Linked DNA regions of Homo sapiens. The protein of the gene in region 3 purifies or fractionates together with the protein of the main gene of each other region. This does not show direct contact. Each region holds a gene or a part of one and is shown on either strand. Other genes may lie near its edges. The genes, in order: EPB41L3, PPP1R2 and GSK3B.

Region 1 (3,755 bases), on a different chromosome or scaffold from region 3:
CAGCTTAGTGCTACGTTTTATATAAACAAACTGGTGGTCTTTTAAAAGCAAATAAAGTGAAAATGTCCGGCCTTATCTTGGGAGCAAAACTAAAAATCACTTACATTGATGTGTCACTTCTTCAATACTTATACATCCATGGGAATCTTATGTTGGCATGGCGAGTTTATAAAATGTTAGAATAACTAAGAAGAAGAACCACATATTTGTTTTTTGGGTGGATTATATTCTTTTCTGTCCCCTTTAAAGCCTTCCTTGACTGAACAGACAGGAAGAGTGTAAAAACAAAATTTAGAACAAAGCACATTTTAACAGCAAAAGTTATCGAAATATCCCTGCCATTATTTCCTACTCTCTGCTTAATTTTGTGTTTGCCAAATAAATAATCTTATCCCAAAAAATAAAAGATGATGGATTGGGCCATTTGTAATATTTTAGCATAACTACAAAAATTATTTGTCTATGTTAAGATGTCACTGCTAAATTCTCATCAAAAGGAACACTTTCCATAGAATTCGGGGTAGTGATTCTCCATCTCTATTTGAAGAGCCCATGTACAAAAGATCACTCGTGAATCAAATTTACTCAAATTTTAGGATAACCCATGGGTTATTATGAGCATTTTCATTCTGCTATTTCCTCTTACTCTATGCTCTGTACAGGCCAGGAGCCACTCTGTTTTTCCCTTATTATTAGGTATAAGCCTCCTGAAGGGTTTTTTGACTTTTAAATTATTTTTCTGAAAAGTTGCTTTGTAGTGCTGGATCACCAGAAAAAAACATAGTGTTTAAAAATGGTGTTAAAAAAGATATTTAATTTGGGGTGAAACAATGTTACAAAGTTTAATGAATTCAACACTGAAAGAAGAAGCTGCTGCCAAATTCCCTTTTTATCTCCTGTTGCAACTTTCTGCCTTAAGATCCCTTTTCAAAACATGGCCAGTCACTACTCTGCTGATTAGGCGTAAGTATAAATATGTAGGCTGTGGTCACTCCATGTACTTACAGTCAGAAGAATGGCAATATGATAATTGTATATCTAGAAAAATATGCTGTACTTGGGTAGGAGAATGGGGCCAGAAACAAAGAAAACAGCTTTAGTGACAGTTCTGAAATGTGAGCCCAAACAGAAAAGTGTAATACGCCACCAAAAGTATTTTTAAGATACACATACAGGACAGCTATTGAAAGTCTTACATAGCACACAAGTTATTAAAATAAAAATTTTCAAAGAGCTATGAATGAACCTTTCAGAGAAAAAATGTTGAAACAGCAATCATAATTTAAAAATTGACATATGAATGTGACCAGTGCTGACATATGATTTATCCTAAATCTGAGCACATTCCTGGTTTACAGCCTCAGCATCATTTAGTCATTCTTAAAAGCTGGAGCAAGCTCTTGCAGGCAGTCTGGGAGCTATACCTTTCCCTCGTGCCGGATGGCCGAGATGGGCGTGACTTCTTCCCCCTTCCTCCGTTTGTCCTCTTCCTCGTCCCGCTCCTCCTCAGCCTTCTTCTCCGGAGTCACAGTGGTGATCAAGTTGGTCTGAGAGATGCCTTTTGTTGTGGCGTACTGGCCAGTACCAACCTCTGCAGCAGACATAGAATCCTTCATGTATATTTCATGGTTTTCATTCACTGATGCTAAAAGCAAATACAATTAAAGAAATAAAATCCAAAATAGTTAGGTCAGAAGACACATGAACAATACCAACTATATCTTTACTGAAAAAAAAAATACCAACACAAAATACCAGGTTTGCCTTGAAAAAACAAATCAGTGCTGCAGGGACCTTCATGAGAGCATGACCTTCCTGTATTTCCTATATGAGTGCTTTAAAATTCGTGAAATGCTCATGTCTTGGAATTTCATCTATCCTCAGACTCTCTGCTGAGGATGTGTGTAAGTGTGGAGGTGAGTGGAGGGTCATGAGGCGAGGCTGCCGCTGGGCATATTATCACCATTGGCTGGCACTGGCACCAGTCTCGTAGTGGCCAATTCCACACCTAACAGCAGTCTTTGCAGTACACAATTGCTCTAATACACTTGGCTCTTTGGAAGTGCCATTCACCAAGGAGCACTGAATTGGTTTTCATATTATTATTATTAATGTTGAAAAGTCTATCACTCTTACAGTATAAAAGCTCCATGGGTAATAACAAATATTAACCATCTTGGTAGAGATTATAAAAATCAGATGGCAATTCCATTCACCTAAAGTACAGAAATGTTTTCATTTCTACTGCATTTTAAACAGACTACCATAATATGCATATACATTTACTCATCTCTAATATTTTGGGAAAACACAATGAATGTTGCTAAATGAAATTCATGCAAATGCAAAACATGCAAACTCAAGAGAATAAGACAGAGCCTTTCATCCCAGCTAAAACGTCTTAGTGAAAAGATGCTTAATTAAGTTTTAAAAGTTGGTACTCATTATTTTAGGTTTTAGATATAAAATTTATTAAAACTTATAAATGTTGCTTTTCAAATACACAGTAACTAATCACAGACAAAATATCTACATTATTATTTTAGGAATTTAAAAACGTAAATAAAAGAAAGGATTCTGAAATGAAATCCTCTCTGAAATGCTTTCGATAGCTAAACTATGTCACTAAAATATCTTCACTAAGACATTTTATATCTCTTTACACCGTTGAAAAAGCTCATATGAGACACAACTTCCTAATGGACCAGTTAGGCCATTCTCTGTGAGATGCAACCTTGCAAAAAAGCAGTTTATGTTGCAACATGCAGCTGTGCCACCCAGCTCAACAGCAGCAGAAAACATACTAGAGCTGGCAGGACCGCAAGGAGTGAGAGACAACACATACTAACATCACTTTTGGGCAGGGAGAAAGAGACAGCATGACATTAGTACACTGATTTCACAATTGTCTTCTGTCTTCTCAGCAGTCATTATCACACTAAAGGTCATAAGGAAAACAACATTCACAACAAATGTGTTCCCTGGGGTGCACGTCACTGAACAAAGTGGATGATATTCAGGAAAAAAAAAGTGCGATTCTACAAAGTTCCTCAAATACTGATAACATATAGAAATAGGTAATAGAGACACTCTAAAGGAGAAACAAGAGTCAATAGGATAAACCAGAAAGAAAAGCTTCAATGTTAACATCGATATTTCAATATCTTAATTCAGCTCGAAACAGTCCTGGTAATTATTTTATTCAAAAGGGCTGGCTCTAAGTTCGGTATTCTGGAAACTCTTAGAAGACACACAATGGCAATTAACTTCCTAGGCTAGCTCACAAAAGCCTGTAAGAATAATTATGAATATAAAATGTGGTATATATACATCATGGAATACTACTCAGTCATAAAAATGAATGAAATCATGTATTTTGAAGTGACTTGGATGGAGCTGAAGGTCATTATTCTACATGAAGTAACTGAGGAATGAAAAGCCAAATACCATACGTTCTCATGTATAAGTGGGAGCTAAGCTATGGGTATGCAAAGGCACAGAGTAATATAATGGACACTGGAGACTCAGAAGGCAGACAGTGGCGGGGGTGGTGGTGACGGATAAAAAACTACATATTGGGTACAATGTGCACTACTCAGGTGACAGGTGCACTAAAATCTCAGACTTCACTACTATACAATTCAGCCATGTGGCCAAAAACCGACTGCTTGTATCTCAAAAGCTACTGAAATTTTAAAAAAATGTGAAAAAAGAGTAATTATCAATATGATTATTGAGATAATTACCTATGTAAC
Region 2 (3,755 bases), about 76 Mb from region 3:
TCTGTCTGTACATTCAGGAATAATCATATCACTGGTTACATACAATTCTCATGCAAAGAAAACCCTCAAAAAACAAACAAAAAAAACCCTCAGTTAGTTGTTTTCTTAAGTCTAATTAATCCAAACTAATAATAGCCATTTAATTAGCAATCTGTAAATCAGAGAGGTATAGAAATTCAGCAGCTAAACTGTATTTCCCACCTATAGCACTGCTGCTACTCAAACTATTTTCTTCACGTATTAGAAGAATTCATAGGCATTGATGGTCAAAATAAGAATTTCAACATAGCAGCAAATGACAGAAGAGTGAGAGAAAGAGCTCCTAATGTGGTGACAGTCTTAATGATCCTTTAAAAGGTAGAAGATTGTGTGCGTATGTGTGGAAAGGAGTAGGAAAGAAAAGCAGGAGGTTAAGACAGGTATTTAAAGGGAATGGCGAGATAGCTACATTAGAATATTTATTTTTTTAAAAAACTGCTCTGAAGTCTGCCCAGTGTACCAAAAACATTAAAAAACAAAAACAAACAAAAACCCCCCAAAAACAAAAAACAGAGCAGACATTGGTGAAAGTTTAACCTGATAATTTATTTGTGGGGAAAAAAGCTAGTTTTGATGAGAAAAAGTTCAGTCCTTTCCTTGTAAACACAAAGAAACTCAACAGGAATTTTAAAAATAGTAGGTCAGAAAATGCAACAGTAACTCTTATAATTCTTTTCAATTAAACAGACAAATCAAGTTGAAGACAAGTGTTAAAATACTATTCAGCCTAAATATTTATCAGTCTATATATCCTGTTGTTCAATTGGCTTTTGATTTTTAAAAAAATCAAATCAATAAACTTTGTAAGAGCTACCACATTTCAAGTGATGAAAATAAATTAGTTCCCCCCCAAAGATATTGTTTAACTTCTAAAGCATAAAAAGCTCTATAATATCTTATACAAATTAACCAGTGTTTTTACAAAAGTAATGCAGTTTTGGACTGATGATATTACACTGTATTTGTGGTAAAGTACTAGGCACAAGAATATATATATCGATTAGGCATTTTCAGTCTAATCAGTCTCTAAGTTTATCATTTAATTCTTGGCAATATATAATAACTGGTATGCATTTTGGTACTTAAGTCATGAATTGTGAAGAACAAGAAGCAACGTACTATAGTCACAGGGTTTACATCTAACAAACAATTGCAGTGTTGAACAAATCTCGTCTATGAACTTCGTAATTTGTTTTGCTGTTGGTCACTTGGAGTAGATCCTGCAAAGATAAAAGAAAAAGTCAACATAATTTGTTATATGTTGTCAACCCTGGCTAAAGTTCCCTTCTATTAGCATGCATGACAAGCAAATATAAAAATTTTAAAAACAAATAAGGTATATTTCATGTAGGCTGATTTAGACTGAAATTGAAGAATCTATACACTCCCCTAAATAGTCTAAAGAACAGAAGTGTCTACTTGCTGATAAAACAAACAGGTTTCAGATTGAACATTTCTGTAAGTCACAGGTGGAAAGGTAAGAGTTTACGACAACTCCAATATCCAGAGCTATAAAAAGATACATATTTATTACCTGAAAGCTATAAAATATCACCTAAGAGTCCAAACATGTCATTTTCTCCAATGAATTGTGTGAATGGGGGAGGAAAGGGGGAAGGGAGGAGACTGGCACTGTCCCAAAACTAATGGGTTCTATAGAACTTAGAGATCTGAAAAGCTGGTAAAATGTTAAGGGCCCAAAAAGGGTAGGGGGTAAATAAGGTACTTATTTCCCTAAGTCTTATCCTATTCTTGTGGGTTTTATAATGCTAAGCAGGATATACTCCTTTGCAAGGTGTACTTCATCTCCAGTGAAGAAAAATCAGGCACTGACCTAATACAAAATTTTAATCCTCCATTAAACTTAAACAAAAAATATATTTATGTACTAAATATGTGAAATGTAATATCTTATAAGCAGAGACGGACAAAATGCCATAGTTATTTTTCAAAAGAAATGGCGTTAAAACAAACAAACAAAAAACGCTGCCTCTATAACAAAAAATAAAATAAAAATAAAAATGGATAATAAAAACATGCCACAGCTACTATGTAAGATGAAGTTTGCTCAAGTTAAATATAAGTTAAACAGACTATGGGATATATAATGGAAATGAAAGGCTATATGAAATAGACTAAAAGGTTGAAGCATATTACGGAATAACAAAAAGTACTGTAATCCTGACACTATGAGACAGCAACTCATCAGGCTGTATCATAGAATTATTCATATTTAATACTATGCTTACCAAAATGGTAATACAATAATTATTTAATTTCCTAAGACTTAACCATTCTGGGCACCACAAATAACATCAGTTACGCCTCCACTGAAAAGTATGAAGTTTGTAAGTACAAGGAGTAGGTGGTGGGCACAAAAAATCTCCATTAGTGATGCAGAAGATTCACTTCATTAAATACCAGAGTAACAGTTCATAAAAAATAAATAAAACCTATTTCCTATGACAGATCAGGAGTTGCTAGGCTGCAGGGGCTGGGTGTCTAAGACTTAAAAAAAAAATAAAAACAAAAACAGTTAAATAACTTGTCAATCCAACAGTCAAAAGAATCCGTATTGGAAAGATATGACATACTTTGTATCTAACGGGATGTAAAACCAAATCTTCCATACTAAAAACATGTTTCAGGCTGGGCGCGGTGGCTCATGCCTGTAATCCCAGCACTTTGGGAGGCCGAGGCGGGCGGATCACAAGGTCAGGAGATTGGGACCATCCTGGCTAACATGGTGAAACCCCATCTCTACTAAAAATACAAAAAATCAGCCAGGCGTGGTGGCAGGCGCCTGTAATCCCAGCTACTCGGGAGGCTGAGGCAGGAGAATGGCGGGAACCCAGGAGGCGGAGCTTGCAGTGAGCCGAGATCACGCCACTGCACTCCAGCCTGGGTGACAGAGCGAGACTCTGTCTCAAAAAAAAAAAAAAAGTTTCATTTAAAAATTTTAAATTTTAGATCGTTATGACAAATACAACATGACCTAAAATATTCAAAACAAAATATAGCTTAATATGAAGACAAACATCCTTGCCTAAAGGCAAGTAAACCATAAGAAAGCCATATAATAAAACATATGGTCTAAAATCAAATCAACTCTAGGTATAAAAACTTTATTATTCTGAAATTGGCCATGCGGGTTAAAACTTTAGAAACATTTGGTATAATAAAGCGAATCTCAGCAAAATTTTCTGTTTTTTCACAAGTTTAAAGCAAAATAAAGTACATTATCTTAGGCATAGACCATTACAAAAGTCTCAGTGACATTTTCCAAACATCTAACCTTGATTTGATTCTTCCGTATTCATGCTTTCTCCATCTGCAGTCTCTAACATTTCTTCATCTTCATCATCATCATGTAGGTCTTTTGAAATTAATTGTCTGGCTAGTTTGATATTGAGTCCTTCATTGTAGTGAAGCTTCCTTTTCATTTCAAATTGTCGCTTTTTTTCTATAAGATGCAAAATGTAAACTTAGGAAGTTTGAGCTCAAGGATTGGCCCATGCCTGTTTTATAAATAAAATTTTATTGAAACAGTGATGCTCATTTGTTTTTGTCATGCTTAAGGCTGCTTTTGTGTTCAATGGCAGAGTTGAGTAGTTCGTAATAGAGACCACTGGGCCCTGCAAAATTTAAAATATTTACTATCTGGCATTCATCTCAATGGAAGAACAAGAATATATCCAGCCATTAGAAATTATATT
Region 3 (3,755 bases):
AAAGAACAAGAAGTGGTATTGATATCTTGTTCTGTATAACAAAGATTAATGTTTCCCTAATTAGAGGAATGGAAATGGTGATGTGACTACATATTGCAGCGGCAAAATAGTAGGGTGAAGGAAGAGGGTTGGGTACTGAAATAAAGACCACACACTTGTGAATTTTAATTTCATTTCCAGGCTAACCTACTTTTTATTTAATGCAAATTACAGTACCAGTTAACTATTTCCAAACCAAGTCACATAGAACAAAATGTATTTACAAGGGAATGGGGAAAGGGAAAAAAAACATTGAGCATACTTTTCACAAAAAAGTTTATATTTAAAATGAAAAAAAAATCAGTCACAGAGGCATTCAAGTAGTAATAATGTTATACAGATTTTGCTTTTCCTTTATATCAAGACAGATTTGCACAAGTGTTTGCAATAGTTTGTATACAACCCACAGTCCTTTATATATATATATATATATATATAATAAATTTTGTTTTTTAGGTTTGTTTTTAAGATGGAAGTGGTCACGCTAATTGGTATGTGTACAGGCCCAAGTGATCCATCGGCAACACATTTATAAATGCAAATTTTACAGGCAAGCAGATTTTCATACAACTATCTGTATCTGCCTGTAGACAGATATAGTTAAGGAAAAAAAAACTTAAAAATTAACACAAGGAAGTCTACTTTGTCAAGCTAACCCCTTATGTACTGGTTGTCATTTTGCTTTTATTGCAGAGGTGCAAAACGGAGCAACAAACTTGAATAAAACGGCATAACCCTTGTGAAAATAATCCAAACCCCAGGGATTACTTTCAAAGCCTCTCAAAGGTAGATCTCAGTCTGGGACTCTACTGTGCTTCTAGTTGTCTCTTTTATTTTCAGTGGCTCAGGTTTCTACCAGAAAAGACAGATTTTATTGTAAAGCATACCTACTTTTCCACACAGGGGAGAAAAGTGTTTGGCTCTGTGATTAGATGATCACTAACATGAACAGTAGGAATCAGATACAATTTCAGTTGAAAAGAAAGAAAACCCCCCAAATTCCTGGGGATCTGGCATTGGCCAAACTTCCTTTGGAAGATTCCAAAGTTAAATCCTTTAAAAAGGAAAGGGAAAAATAGATGAAATGCCAGTGTCTTCATATCCACAGGGATAGAGAATACTCCTCTCAGAAACCTTTGCATTGGTGCAGACAAGATGACTGGTTAGGCATACATTGTTAAAACATAAACCAAAAATGTGTCTAAAAATTAAGAGGACTTAAAAAAAATGACACAGCATGTCACTGGAAAGAAGGTGCAGTCTTCTGCCTTGCTGGAATGAACACACGATGTTTCAAAAATAGTAACCTTTGGTTTGGTAGTTTTTTCTTCTATTCAAGACATTTTATATGGACTACTTTGAGGCAAAACATTCTATTTTTCTTTCAAAAAAGGCCTTCGTGTTGGGCACACAGTAAGAATTAAACTGATTTTTTTTAAAAGAAATTAAAATGATATTTCATTGAGCAAGGGTAGAGATGGCGGGAGGGAGGAAATGGGCTAAGAGTTCCCTTGTTAAAACAACAGTCCTCTATTGGCACGGTGGCACTCCGTGCAGTAACTGCTAGTAATTGCACTATAGCATTTTAGACCACTGACGTATCAAAACCTGATACTATTAAGAAACTTCGATTTATAAAAAAACAATTCTCTGTCACTCTCTCATTTGGGAGGGAAGTAGATAAAAGAGGAGAGAGAGAGAGCATGGAAGGCTCCCAGAATCTGCTGTTTTTAAGACCCATGGTTAGGGCTTGTGGAAGAGACGAGCAAAATTTAATCTATTCGATATCCTCCAGCTCTAGGGCTCCCTGGTGCTACACTAAGTCCCTGAATGGACTAAGTATGAAATGAAACCGGTCTCACTGCTACCGAGGAGGAAAGACATTCAGAACCAAAACAAAGGCAGGGCTTCAACGAAATGAAATTACGAATATGATTTCCTCTTCCCACTCCTGAGTATGGTATCACTGAAACTTAACTGTGGAAGGGGCAAAGATACTGTTATGAGTGAGTTATTATTTCAAAGGGAAAGGGGGTGGACAGGGAGACATGGATAAAGGAAACCAATTAAAATTTAAAAAAGAACAAATTAAAAAAAAAAACACATGGAAGCGAAGGCACTCCAAACTATATAGATACACTATACATTGCTAGAGTTATTGTTACAATAATACAGGCCGGTACCTACTGTACAGAGTTAAAACTATATGGCTTTAAAAAGCTCGTCTACATTTTGTCTGATTATTAAACAGAATCACTGCCCTGAACAGTAACTTTTTGCTCATTAATAACAGTTCCTGGGTCCACATATTTACATACAAAACAATAAAACTTAAATTTAAAAACACAGAAAGAAAATATAATGTACAAGCTTGAATTTGGTGAGGAGCTTTTTATTATTATTATATACAAAAAGATATTCAGAGACCTGGATCTCACTTGTATAAAAGAGTTCTGTGATCCCACCATGATCCTTGAGAAAGAAAAATCACACATCTCAGCACACACACACACACACACACACGCACACATGCACACACAATGAAATGAGAGAAAAGCGTGACTTTTCTCTCTTCTTTTACCCCAGTTGTGGGGGGCAACCTGTTTCCTAAAATAAGCACTGATTTTTATGGACTCTGGGGAGTATACCACGTCCAGAGCAGTGTCTGCATCCAAACGCTTGCTGGGCAGTTGGATCTGAATGCAGGTCCATTTCTCTATCACAGACCTGCCTTTTCAGATTCTTTATAAATTCTGTCTGAAAATGGTCTATCAACGCCACTACCTTTAAGGAGTTATGCTGCCAAATACTTTGATTTCAGACTTCTTTCAAATCTTAGCTTTCAGAAGCACTTTATAAAACATAAAATTCAATTTGTTTGATTTGGTTTGACTGAGCATGTTTCCTTTCTCATAAACTCTGATATATCCAGAGGTTTGTGAAACCCCTTTTGTGGCCCAAGACCTCAGCTAAACAGCGAGTGAAAACCAAGATGGCTCACAGTTGTCTTTCTGGGTACTGGTTCACTTCAGCAGGCAGGACAACTCTCTTGGAGAGTCACACACACAGTTAAGGAGCAGGACAGGGTGCTAGGGCCTGCAGGAGGGCTGCCAACAGACTCCACTTCCGAACCCTCTGGAGGACGAGACCCATAAAGTGACCTAAGGTGGCAATGAGGAGGGTGAGGGCAAGTTACACACAACCATGGGCTCAGCTCTGCAGCCCTACAGTTACCAGCTAACCTTGGAAGGCATGTGGGGAAGGAGCGGGTAGGAGGGAAAGGCGGCCATCACTCAAGTGATCTTTAAATGTAAAGTACAACTGATTGTGCCTTAAAGATTCATAGGTCAAGTAATGGCCCATAAGCACCAAGGTGACTAAAGTTCATTTTAGAGTATATAAGGCCCACATAGATGCCAACCTTAAAAGTATAAAACAAACTAGTCATGAAAATCTATTTCCTCACGGCAAACATAGTCCTTCAATTCTCCTTGCTTTCCAAGGAATATTGCTTTTTCTTCAAAAAGAGAGACTGATTCTTAACATCGTTCACTGATACACAAAGAAAACAGACACAAAAACTCTTAACTGGGTGTGGGGGAAACATTCTTCTCATGCTTCAACCAGTCAATTTTGATACTGTAGACAAAAAAAAAGGCAGTATTGAATATATGTATATATAACATATATACACACATTTATATCATCAGCTTTCC

What was found.
Region 1: the proteins of GSK3B (region 3) and EPB41L3 purify together in Homo sapiens (affinity purification with mass spectrometry; 4 studies listed by BioGRID and IntAct, with this or other methods). This does not show direct contact.
Region 2: the proteins of GSK3B (region 3) and PPP1R2 purify together in Homo sapiens (affinity purification with mass spectrometry; 6 studies listed by BioGRID and IntAct, with this or other methods). This does not show direct contact.

What each region holds. Positions count from the first base shown.
Region 1 is NC_000018.10:5,418,287-5,422,041, forward strand, and holds part of EPB41L3 (band 4.1-like protein 3), read right to left. Parts: intron 1,646-3,755; coding exon of another isoform or gene 1,592-1,645; coding exon 1,425-1,591; intron 1-1,424. UniProt on the Homo sapiens protein: Tumor suppressor that inhibits cell proliferation and promotes apoptosis. Modulates the activity of protein arginine N-methyltransferases, including PRMT3 and PRMT5.
Region 2 is NC_000003.12:195,515,684-195,519,438, forward strand, and holds part of PPP1R2 (protein phosphatase inhibitor 2), read right to left. Parts: intron 3,503-3,755; coding exon 3,335-3,502; intron 1,260-3,334; coding exon 1,213-1,259; 3' UTR 1-1,212. UniProt on the Homo sapiens protein: Inhibitor of protein-phosphatase 1.
Region 3 is NC_000003.12:119,821,791-119,825,545, forward strand, and holds part of GSK3B (glycogen synthase kinase-3 beta), read right to left. Parts: 3' UTR 1-3,755. UniProt on the Homo sapiens protein: Constitutively active protein kinase that acts as a negative regulator in the hormonal control of glucose homeostasis, Wnt signaling and regulation of transcription factors and microtubules, by phosphorylating and inactivating glycogen synthase (GYS1 or GYS2), EIF2B, CTNNB1/beta-catenin, APC, AXIN1, DPYSL2/CRMP2, JUN, NFATC1/NFATC, MAPT/TAU and MACF1.